3 linked regions of the Homo sapiens genome follow. The protein of the gene in region 3 purifies or fractionates together with the protein of the main gene of each other region. This does not show direct contact. Each region holds a gene or a part of one and is shown on either strand. Other genes may lie near its edges.

Region 1 (3,500 bases), on a different chromosome or scaffold from region 3:
CATCTCTACTAAAAATACAAAAAGTAGCCAGGCCTGGTGGTGGGCACCTGTAATCCCAGCTACTCGGGAGGCTGAGGCAGGAGAATGGCTTGAACCCGAGAGGCAGAGATTGCGGTGAGCTGAGGTGGTGCCATTGCACTCCAGCCTGGGTGACAAGAGTGAAACTCGGTCAAAAAAAAAAAAAAGGCTGGGTGCGGTGGCTCACGCCTGTAATGCCAGCACCCAGCACTTTGGGAGGCTGAGGCGGGTGAATCACTTGAGGTCAGGAGTTCAGGACCAGCATGGCCAACGGGTGGTGAAACTCCATCTCTACTAAAAATACAAAAATCAGCCAGGTGTGGTGGTGGGTGCTTGTAATCCCAGGTACTCGGGAGACTGAAGCACAGGAATCGCTTGAACCCAAGAGGCGGAGGTTGCAGTGGGCCAAGACTGTGCCATTGCACTACAGCCTGGGTGACAAGAGCAAAACTCCGTCTCAAAAAAAAAAAAAAAAAGAAAGAAAGAAATAAAACACTGTTTCATAACAGCCTTCTCCAAATCTCCAAATAGTTTTTAACTGAGCAAGGATTCACATCCAGTTGATTTCCACTTCACACAAAAATGACATATTTAGGAAGTTTCCTCTTATGTGACCAGATATTGGACTATCACTTACCCTTTTGAGGCTTATGTTGTCATGTTCATAATTCAGCCGATAGAGAAAAAACCGAGAAACTGTAGAATAGGCTATCCAACTTCCACATGGGGAGATACAGCTACAGATAATGTTCTCAGGACCCTGGCAATATCAGGAATCAAGATGAATGTGCAATTAAACTTCACATAACAAGGTGCACTGGGACATGACGCCTCAAGCTCTTGCCACTCTGGACATACCCACAGATATCTACACATAATCTCGATCCTCGTGTGGTCTGCATTAATATGATTATTTCAGAGGCAGAGCACCTAAAAGGCATGGCTTTGATTTCCAAATCCAAGAATGGAGGTCTATTCTTATTTTGGCCCTTTGAATACTTCATAGATAGCCTCATACTAGACCCCAACTTCAGAAACCTGAGCAGGGAGGCATTTACTGAAGGAAAGCTCTGGAGGATAGGTGGTTTGAAGTACTTATTTTCTGTTTTGTGTACGGCGTTCTGCTTTAAAGACTTCTAAGAAATAGCAAATGAAGAACATTTGAAGGCCAGGTACAGTGGGTCATGCCTGTAATCCCAGCACTTTGGGAGGCTGAGGTGGAGGATTGCTTGAGCCCAGGAGTTCAAGACCTGTCTGGACAACATGGTGAAACCCTGACTCTACAAAAAATTAGCCGGGCATGGTGGTGCACACCTGTAGTCCCAGCTACCTGGGAGGGTGAAGTGGTAGGATCACCTGAGCCTGGGAGGTTGAGGCTGCAGTGAGCCGTGACCGTGCCACTGCTCTCCAGCCTGGATAACACAATGAGACCCTGCCTCAAAAAAGTAAGCAAACAAACAAAAAAACCAACCAACTAACCAAACAAAAAAGAATCTGGAGAATAAAGAAAAGTTGAATGTAACATGTATGTAGTTTTTAAAAACTCACAAAATGATTTTTTTTTCATTGTATACCCTTTTGTACTATTTGAGTTTTTAAAAATATGCACATGGCTGGGCGCGGTGGCTCACGCCTATAATCCCAGCACTTTGGGAGGCCAAGGCGGGCGGATCACCTGAGGTCGGGAGTTCAAGACCAGCCTGACCAACCCCATCTCTACTAAAAATACAAAAAATTAGCCGGGCGTGGTGGCGCATGCATGTAATCCCAGCTACTTGGGGGGCTAAAGCAGGAGAATCGCTTGAACCCAGGAGGCGGAGGTTTCGGTGAGCTGAGGTGGTGCCATTGCACTCCAGCTTGGGCAACAAGAGTGAAACTCCGTCTCAAAAATAAATAAATAAATAAATAAATAAATAAATAAATAAAAGCACATTATTTTCATAATAATATCAAAAGAAGAGAAACCTATTTCCTGTATACATCCATCTAATAAATCCTCAACGTCCTACTTATAATCACAGGAAACCCAGTCCTGGTGACACAGTCCTTCATTCAAATAGTTTTAGAATTTATACAATTTATGATGCAAACTAAGTAACCTCAAAATTCAGAATGGGAATTATGAGCCTAGAATTCAGGCTCTAGAATTCAGAGCCTAAACAAACTTCCTTACCTTTGTCTTTAGGTGCAGTAAATGATCTGCATTTTTAGAGAGTGGAAGAGTATCCCCATTCTTGCCTGAAACAAGAAACTTCCCTGAGATTTTTCTTATGAAAGAAAGAGTATTTGTACATTTTTCTTCTAAAAAGTTACTCCTTGGAAAAATGGAATCTCTATCAGTGGGAAATCAGAAAAATACAAGCTCACTGAGTAAGCTCACAATTTTTGAGGGGTATATGAAGAGAAAGCAGTGAGTACTTCTTTTGCTTCTATCCTCTGATACATCACTAATTCCCTGAAGCTCTAGTCCATAGCCAGGGACACAGGTGGAGTTTGTGTGGCCTCGATTTTAATCCACTGCAAATGAGAGGACTCAAACATTTCCTTAATAAGTCAAAAAGGCCACTAGGCTGTCACTCCAATAAGATCCATGTGATCTTCTTTTTCTACAGGATTATCATTACCCATCATTAAATCTTGTTGTTTTTCAACAGCCTGTTTTCACCTCAGTTAAGCTAGCGCAAACTACGATTCTTCAACCCTTACCTTGACTACACCCTGCAGCGCACCACCTAGAGCCATAAACTTTTAAGAGATGATCCAATATCCTGCTAAAGATTCTAATACTCTAAACAGCTTATTTGCTTTATCTAATGGGTGGGAAAACCATTAGTTAAAATGGACACAAAAGTCTACTTCAGTTTTTCTATAAGCAGAATTCCAACCGCAATTCTGATTTCTGGCTTCTCTCTCCAGTTTTCTTATTGAAAAAAACGTGCTCCCATCTTACCTGTTGCAACTGTGGATCCCAGTCGCCAAAGTTCTAAGTGATGAGCAAACTGGAAGAGGAGAAGCTGCCTCTTTTTAGAACAGGAGATGAGACATCGCTATATCCAAGAATCAAGAAGTTAAAAAAATAAGTCAGGGTCATCTACTGCCTTAGTACCAGATACAGTAGCACCACCTTAGCACATTTTTTACTGCTGAAATCCATTTCCTTGATAAATATTTCCTAAGTACTCCCATATGCCAGGCACTGCCCTGAGATCTATGAAGACGATGATGAATTAAAACATAGCTACTGCTCTCAACATGCTTCTAAAGGGGTGACACAGAATTAAATCAGCAATTAGACTTCAGTGTGCCAAGAATTTTAACACGGCTAAACACAGTATGTACTGAAAAATAAGGAGACAGGACATCTAACCTAGCTGTGTGGTGGTAAATACAGAAGCCCAGATGAGGTTCACTGGGAAAGACCAGTCAGGCGAAGGAGGCAGGGCAGAACATTCTGAGGAGGGTGATGGCATGTGACATAGCTC
Region 2 (3,106 bases), on a different chromosome or scaffold from region 3:
TCTGATGGTCATTTCCCACACCTATGCAGGCACAGGACACCACTTCTAAAGTCTCCTAAACAAGGTCCCTGAATAGCAAGCCAGACCAAGGACAAGTCTAGTGTGCCCGAGTGACACCTCCAGGAGTTTGAAGATAAGGCACATCACTCACTGTGACAGTTGGGGGATCTCATAGCCAGACTGGATATTGGAGATGCCAGCAGCTACTGCAGCAGTGACCATCAGCCTGGGCTTGTTGATCTGCTTGGCCTCCTGCTCAAAAGCTTCACGCATTTCCTACAGAATAATAAGGCATAATAGGACATCTATGATGCTGATTTTAGCTCCTTAAATAATACTAATAAACATATGTCTGTATAATGCTTCTCTCTCTTAAATTGCTTTCACATATTTTATTTTACTTTAGTCTCTCAACAACCAAATAAAGTAGATCGGATAGATAATATTATTGAATTTTCTGGCTATCTAATATGCATAAGAGTTAGGACACTTCACCAAAGTCCCACACTGAGTTAGTAGGTAGGTCATGACCAAAACCCAGGTCCCAGATGACCATCAGGGCTCCATTGTATCTCTATACTTTGAAGCTCTAGTTGCAGTGATACCCTACATCCAGCAGTATAGAAATTTGTTTCATAAAGTAGATGAACTACTTTATAGGACTGACATCCCATCAAATAAAATGGTGTATTGGCCAATAAGGAAGGTGGTAACAGCTAGATGATAGGTTCCCATTCAATACTAGAGATTAATCCACCTGTATCTGTGCGACTGTAATCTCATTTGGAGTACTGGGTTTAGTTCTTATAATTGCACTATTAGGGTGCGCCAGAGTATGTTCCAGTGAAGGCTGGCTCTGAAAATTGTCATGCGGTTATTGATTGAAGGCATTAAGATATTTAACTGGAATAAGAGAAATTATAGGCAAGGTATTTACAGCTGTCTTAAGACATTAAGCCCATATATTGCAAAAGATGCAGTCTTATTCTCTGTTGCTTCAGCAGGAAGAACTAGAAACAATGACCAGAAGTTATAAATTATGACTAGAGGCATGTTCCAGCCAAGAAAGAGATATTCCTTTATGATCATTAGGGCAATTCAACAAGTAAGTAAATTGACTTTTCACCTATTACTTAACATTGAAACTATTCAGAGGCTGGGTGACGATCTGTTACATAGAATGGAATAGCAAACAATCTGTCTTGGGAGACAGTAAGTCTAAAAACCAAGTATATCAAGCTTTTTTGTCCTGAACTCCAGATTGATATTTATCTGATGCCTACTGGGCACTCTGTTAGGATGCTCTACAGATACCTCATACTCATCAAGTTCAAGGTCAATTCTTCTTCTTTCAAATCTACACTTCTTCCTGTATTTACCATCTTAGTTAATAGCATTAAAATCAAACCCATCCTCAAAGTCAGAAAATTGGAGGTCCTCTCCATTTCCTATTTCCAGTTGATCTCCAAATCCTATTGATTCTATCCTCTTGATATCTCTTATATACATCCTCTTCTTCCCTCAGTGTTAGAGCCTTTGTTGGGGCCCTGATCATTTCTTGCTTGATTTACTGCAATAACCTCCTAATTCTATCCATGACTTCTCATCTCCTTCTAATTTATCCTCTATGGTAAAAGCCAGCTCTCTACTATTTAAAATTCTTCAAAACAGTCCCATTGTGTCAAAGGTAAAGTGCAAATTCCTGAACATAATATAAAAGTTCTCACATTATCTGGTTCTTCATGCAACTTCACAGCCATTATCACCCACTTGCTCACACTTATCTGTATATCATTTGTGCCATTCCCATCCTCACTTAATTGGTTAACACCAGTTTCTTTCAAGACTGAGCCCAAGCATCACTTTCTCTAGGAAACACTTTCTGATCCTGCCCCAGAGCAGAATTAGTTACCCTCTTTCCTTGTTACTTTTGTACTCTGCAGACCTCTAACATGGCATTTATCACAATGCATTGCCATTGTTCATATTCTTTCAGTCTTCCACCTCAGAAGAAGTTCTTCAAAGCCAAGGATAGTGTCTTATTCTTATATTTAGCCTGACAATGTCTGCCACAGAATATGTACTCAGTAATAACGGGCAGCCTAGTGTAATGCTTAGAAGCAATGGACTCTGTGGCCAAACTGCAGAGGAAGTTATGATTCCTACTAGTTGTGTGATCTTGGGCAAGTTGCTTAAATCCTCTCTGTACTTTAGTTTCCTCATCTGTAAAATAAAGATTATAACACTTATAGTATGTATGCCATAGAGTAAATATGAAGATGAAATGAGTTATGGTTCTTAAAACAACATGTAGAGCAGTGCCTGGCACAGAGCTCACATGTTGCTTTGTTGTTGCCATTAAATGTTTGTTTAATGAACGCACGATATATAAGACTCTTTGCAATGCTAATATTCTATCAGTTTAAATTCAAGTTTTGTTTTACCCTAGAGCCACCCAATTCTCCTCGGAAAGAAAGACTTTGAATCTTTTTGGGCTAAAGACTGGGACTTCCTTCCCCACCTGCACCAGGACAGTGAAGAGATGCTTGTCCTGAGGAGGGCTCCCACGAGAGCCAGGGTACTCCCAGTCAAAGTCCAGCCCGTCAAACTCATACTGGCGCAGGAATTTGATGACTGAGGTGATGAAAGTCTGGCGGTTCTCAGGAGTAGAAACCATGGCAGTGAAACTGAGGGAGACCCAAAGAAGGCAGGGTGAGACCTTGGTGGTCCCAACACCTTGGAGTAAAATCAAGCTCTCAATTCCTGCCTCAGAGCCCTTCATCAGGACCCACAGCCCAGAGTAAAGCATGTTCTTGGTTTTCTCCTCTCCTTCCTTTGTAATCACTACTCTTCCCAGCCATGGTATCTTAACATTCCCTTTATTCTGTTATCCCCCCAACTCTGCTCTTTCTCCCAAGTTGCCCTTGTTTCTTTGGATACCTGGCAAACCCAGCACACTGTGTTCCCTCCCCAAACATGTACCCTCCAAGAAGTCCTCTTGTTTATTTGTGTGATTTTCTCATTCCTCCCCCCACCAGAAGATAAATAGAGGGAAGCATTATAACACTGTCCTCAGGGTTTGTACTCTTGAAATACTTTAAGAAGA
Region 3 (3,500 bases):
GAGTTTGAGAGATTCTCCTGCCTCAGCCTCCTGTGTAGTTGGGAGTACAGGCACCCGCCACCACGCCCGGCTAATTTTTGTATTTTTAGTAGAGACGGGGTTTCACCATGTTAGCCAGGATGATCTCGATCTCCTGACCTCGTGATCCACCCGCCTCAGCCTCCCAAAGTGCTGGGATTACAGGCGTGAGCCACTGCGCCCGGCTGTGTGTTATCTTCTACGCCAGTTTTTCTGATTCTCAGTTTATAGATGGGAAAGGAGACGCTTCCAGCAGCAGGAACTTGCTCAAGGTCACTCAGCAAGTAAGCCGGTGGAGCCAATTCAGACTCAAGTCTAACAGATTCGAAGCCCTAACTGTTCTCCTAGGCGGCCTCGCTGGGTCTCCCCAAACTCCGCAGCATTACAGCCCCACCCTCGGGCCCCCTTCCTGGAGGCCTGGTGGGGCGCAGGAGCAGGAAGAGAACAGGCCTCACCTGGGCCCGCTCACCTGTGAAGGGGTCCCAGACGTGCACAGCCCCGTCACAGCTCACCACGTGCTGCGGGGCCTCAAGCTGGCCCACGAAGAAGACGCTCTTGCGGTGCTGGGTGTAGACGAGGCGTGGGGCCGTCTCGCTGGTCCCGTCGCCGTAGTTGTACAGCGGCCAGAGGCGCACGGTACGATCCTTGCTGCCGCTCAGGAAGAAGTCCTCGCTGCTTAGGGGTGCCACGCACTTGACGGCCCCCGAGTGGCCCGGGAAGCTCTGCAGGCGGATCTGGTGGAAGTGAAAGTGGGCATCCTGCTGGCTCACGCCGATCTCGTACTGCCAGTACGCCAGCCAGTTTCCGCTCAGCCCGTGCACGCTCCGCGGCAGCTCCTGCTTCAGGGCGTTGTCGTCGCTCCCGCTGCCCAGGCCCCCGCCACCCACCCCCGAGATGGGGCCCAGTGGTCCGGGGTTCTCAGGCCGAGAGTCATTGGGGATCTGAATGCGGTTCCCCACCAGGACGCTCCCAAAGGTCCCTGAGTGGCCGTCATCCTGAGGGCAGCCCCCACCATGGGGGTCCCACTCGGGCCCGGTGCCGGGCATGGTGGGCTCCACGCTGGCAGGGTTGCGACTGCTGGGGCTGATGCTCTCCAAGTACAGCGCCGCCAGCTCCCCAACCAGCTCGTGGTTGGGGATGATTTTCCGGATGATGTCACCTGGATAGGAGTGGGAGAGGTCCTGAGACAGGGAAGATGGCAGGCGGCTGCTATCACCCATCCAAGGACTCGGGAGCCACAGAAGATGGGGCAGGAACTGGCTCTGCAACTCTGGGCAAGTAACTCTGTCTCTGAGCCTCAGTTTCCTCCTCAGTGAAATGTGGATTCATTCCGTTGTGATGTACACATGAGCATCTTCTATATGTGCCGTGCCGTGCTGGGCACTAGGAATAGAATATGGAACAAGACAGGTGGTGCCCTGGCCTCCCAAGCTTAGATTTCAGTGGCAGGATGATAACAGGTGTAACCACAAGGCTGTCTGTCCTCTCCAGGGAGATGACACGCTGAAACGATCAGCACAGCACCGTGCAGGGCCCAGAGGGGAAGCTTCGTAAACAGGAGGCCACTCCTTCCCTCTCGCCAGCTCCTGCGGACCGCCAGTCCACCTCCCTGACTCTCCTGCCTTCCCCAGGGACACTACAGGCCAGCTTCTGGGCCTCTCTTGCTGGCTACTGCTCAGTCCTTGTTTGTGTGTCACCTTGGGGGTAGGGGTCTGAGGCCAAATCCCTTTGCTCTCACCCATCCTGCTGGCTCTTAGAACCCACTGCTGACTCTGGGGCAAGGGCAGAGAATGGGGCCTCCCAAGGGAGGAGACAGCCACGAAGACTGTGATGGGGAACGTGATGGGGCAGTACCCAACAGGCAGGAGAAGGGCACGTAGATTGTGTATGCCATCTCCAGGGTGAACACCTTCTGCAGCTCGTCCAGCAGGGCGGGGTCCACGGGCCGCTGCTGCCCATCAGAGAAGACCACCTGTGGCAGCTGGCCCTCACCACGGCCCGCAGGGTCCAGCTTCAGATCCTATGAGCAAGACACCCAGGGGGTCAGCCGGGTCCACAGCTCCCACCCTGGCCCACCCTGGTCCTCGCCACGGCCCGCGGAGTCCAGCTTCAGATCCTATGAGCAAGATGCCCAGGGGGTCACCCAGGTCCACAGCCCCCGCCCCAGCCCGCCCTGGCCCAGCAGATCTGCCCACCTGTTGCCGAAGCTCATGCAGCTGAGAGAAGACCTGGAAAAAGGTGGCCACGGGCTCGCTCAGGTGCTGCTGGACCATCTCCTGTCCAATGCGCAGGCAGATGAGGGCGATGAGGCTGATGGTTTTCACACACAGGATGGTCCGAGCCTGGGCCCCACTTGGGAACCTGGAAACAGAGCTCATGAGCTCCAGCCCGCCGTTCTGCAGGACTTGACCAGAATCTAGCAAAATCTTTATTTATTTTTATTTTTATTGAGATGGAGTCTTGCTCTGTCATCCAGGCTGGAGTGCAGTGGTGCGATCTCGGCTCACTGCAACCTCTGCCTCCCGGGTTCAAGCGATTCTCCTGCCTCAGTCTCCCGAGTAGCTGGGACTACAGGCATGAGCCACCATACCCGGCTAATTTTTTTTGTATTTTTAGTAGAGACAGGGTTTTGCCATATTGGCCAGGCTGGTCTCGAACTCCTGACCTCAAGCGATCCACCCACCTTGGCCTCCCAAAGTGCTGGGATTACAGGCATGAGCCACAGCACCCAGCATATATATATACTTTTTTTTTTTTTTGAGACAGAGTCTTGCTCTGTCGCCTAGGCTGCAGTACAATGGCGTGATCTCAGCTCACTGCAACCTCCGCTTCCTGGGTTCAAGCAATTCTCCCGCCTCAGCCTCCTGAGAACCTGGGATTGCAGCCTCCCGAGAACCTGGGATTGCAGGCACCTGCTGCCATGCCCAGCGAAGATTTTGTATTTTTAGTGGAGACGGGGTTTCACCATGTTGGCCAGGTGGGTCTCAAACTCCTGACCTCGTGATCCACCCGCCTTGGCCCCCCAAAGTGCTGGGATTACAGGGGTGAGACACCACGCTCGGCCTTTATATATATTTTTAGAGAGGGGGTCTCATTTTGTTGCCCAGGCTGGTCTTGAACTCCTGGGCTCAAGCAATCTTCCCGCCTCAGCCTCTCAAAGTGCTGGGATTACAGGCATGAGCCACCGTGCCCGGACATATCAAAAGCTTTAAATGAAAGAGCTCCAAGACCAACTGGTCCAAACCAGATGAGGAAACTGAGGCACAGGAAAAGGGTGTGGTTTGCTCAGGGTCACACAGCCGGGATCAAAACCAGGACTCTTGACACCCAGTCCAGTGTTACGTCCTCTCCCCTGAGCTTCCCACCCCCTCCTGGGCAGCCCCTCCGCTGGGCCGGTCCCCCTACATCAGCTGGGGCAGAGGCCTACCCCGTGACGAGGGAGGTGAGGAAGCTGAGCACGGGCAGCAGGACCTCATGGCTGA

What was found.
Region 1: the proteins of WDR81 (region 3) and UTP4 purify together in Homo sapiens (tandem affinity purification; one study listed by IntAct). This does not show direct contact.
Region 2: the proteins of WDR81 (region 3) and CHIA purify together in Homo sapiens (co-immunoprecipitation; one large-scale study listed by IntAct). This does not show direct contact.

Annotation. Positions count from the first base shown.
Region 1 is NC_000016.10:69,153,149-69,156,648, reverse strand, and holds part of UTP4 (U3 small nucleolar RNA-associated protein 4 homolog), read right to left. Parts: intron 3,066-3,500; coding exon 2,969-3,065; intron 2,257-2,968; coding exon 2,192-2,256; intron 779-2,191; coding exon 656-778; intron 1-655. UniProt on the Homo sapiens protein: Ribosome biogenesis factor. Involved in nucleolar processing of pre-18S ribosomal RNA. Part of the small subunit (SSU) processome, first precursor of the small eukaryotic ribosomal subunit.
Region 2 is NC_000001.11:111,314,851-111,317,956, reverse strand, and holds part of CHIA (acidic mammalian chitinase isoform c precursor), read right to left. Parts: intron 2,688-3,106; coding exon 2,522-2,687; intron 2,252-2,521; exon of another isoform or gene 2,085-2,251; intron 277-2,084; coding exon 152-276; intron 1-151.
Region 3 is NC_000017.11:1,731,204-1,734,703, reverse strand, and holds part of WDR81 (WD repeat-containing protein 81), read right to left. Parts: coding exon 3,446-3,500; intron 2,380-3,445; coding exon 2,214-2,379; intron 2,039-2,213; coding exon 1,873-2,038; intron 1,178-1,872; coding exon 488-1,177; coding exon of another isoform or gene 474-487; intron 1-473. UniProt on the Homo sapiens protein: Functions as a negative regulator of the PI3 kinase/PI3K activity associated with endosomal membranes via BECN1, a core subunit of the PI3K complex.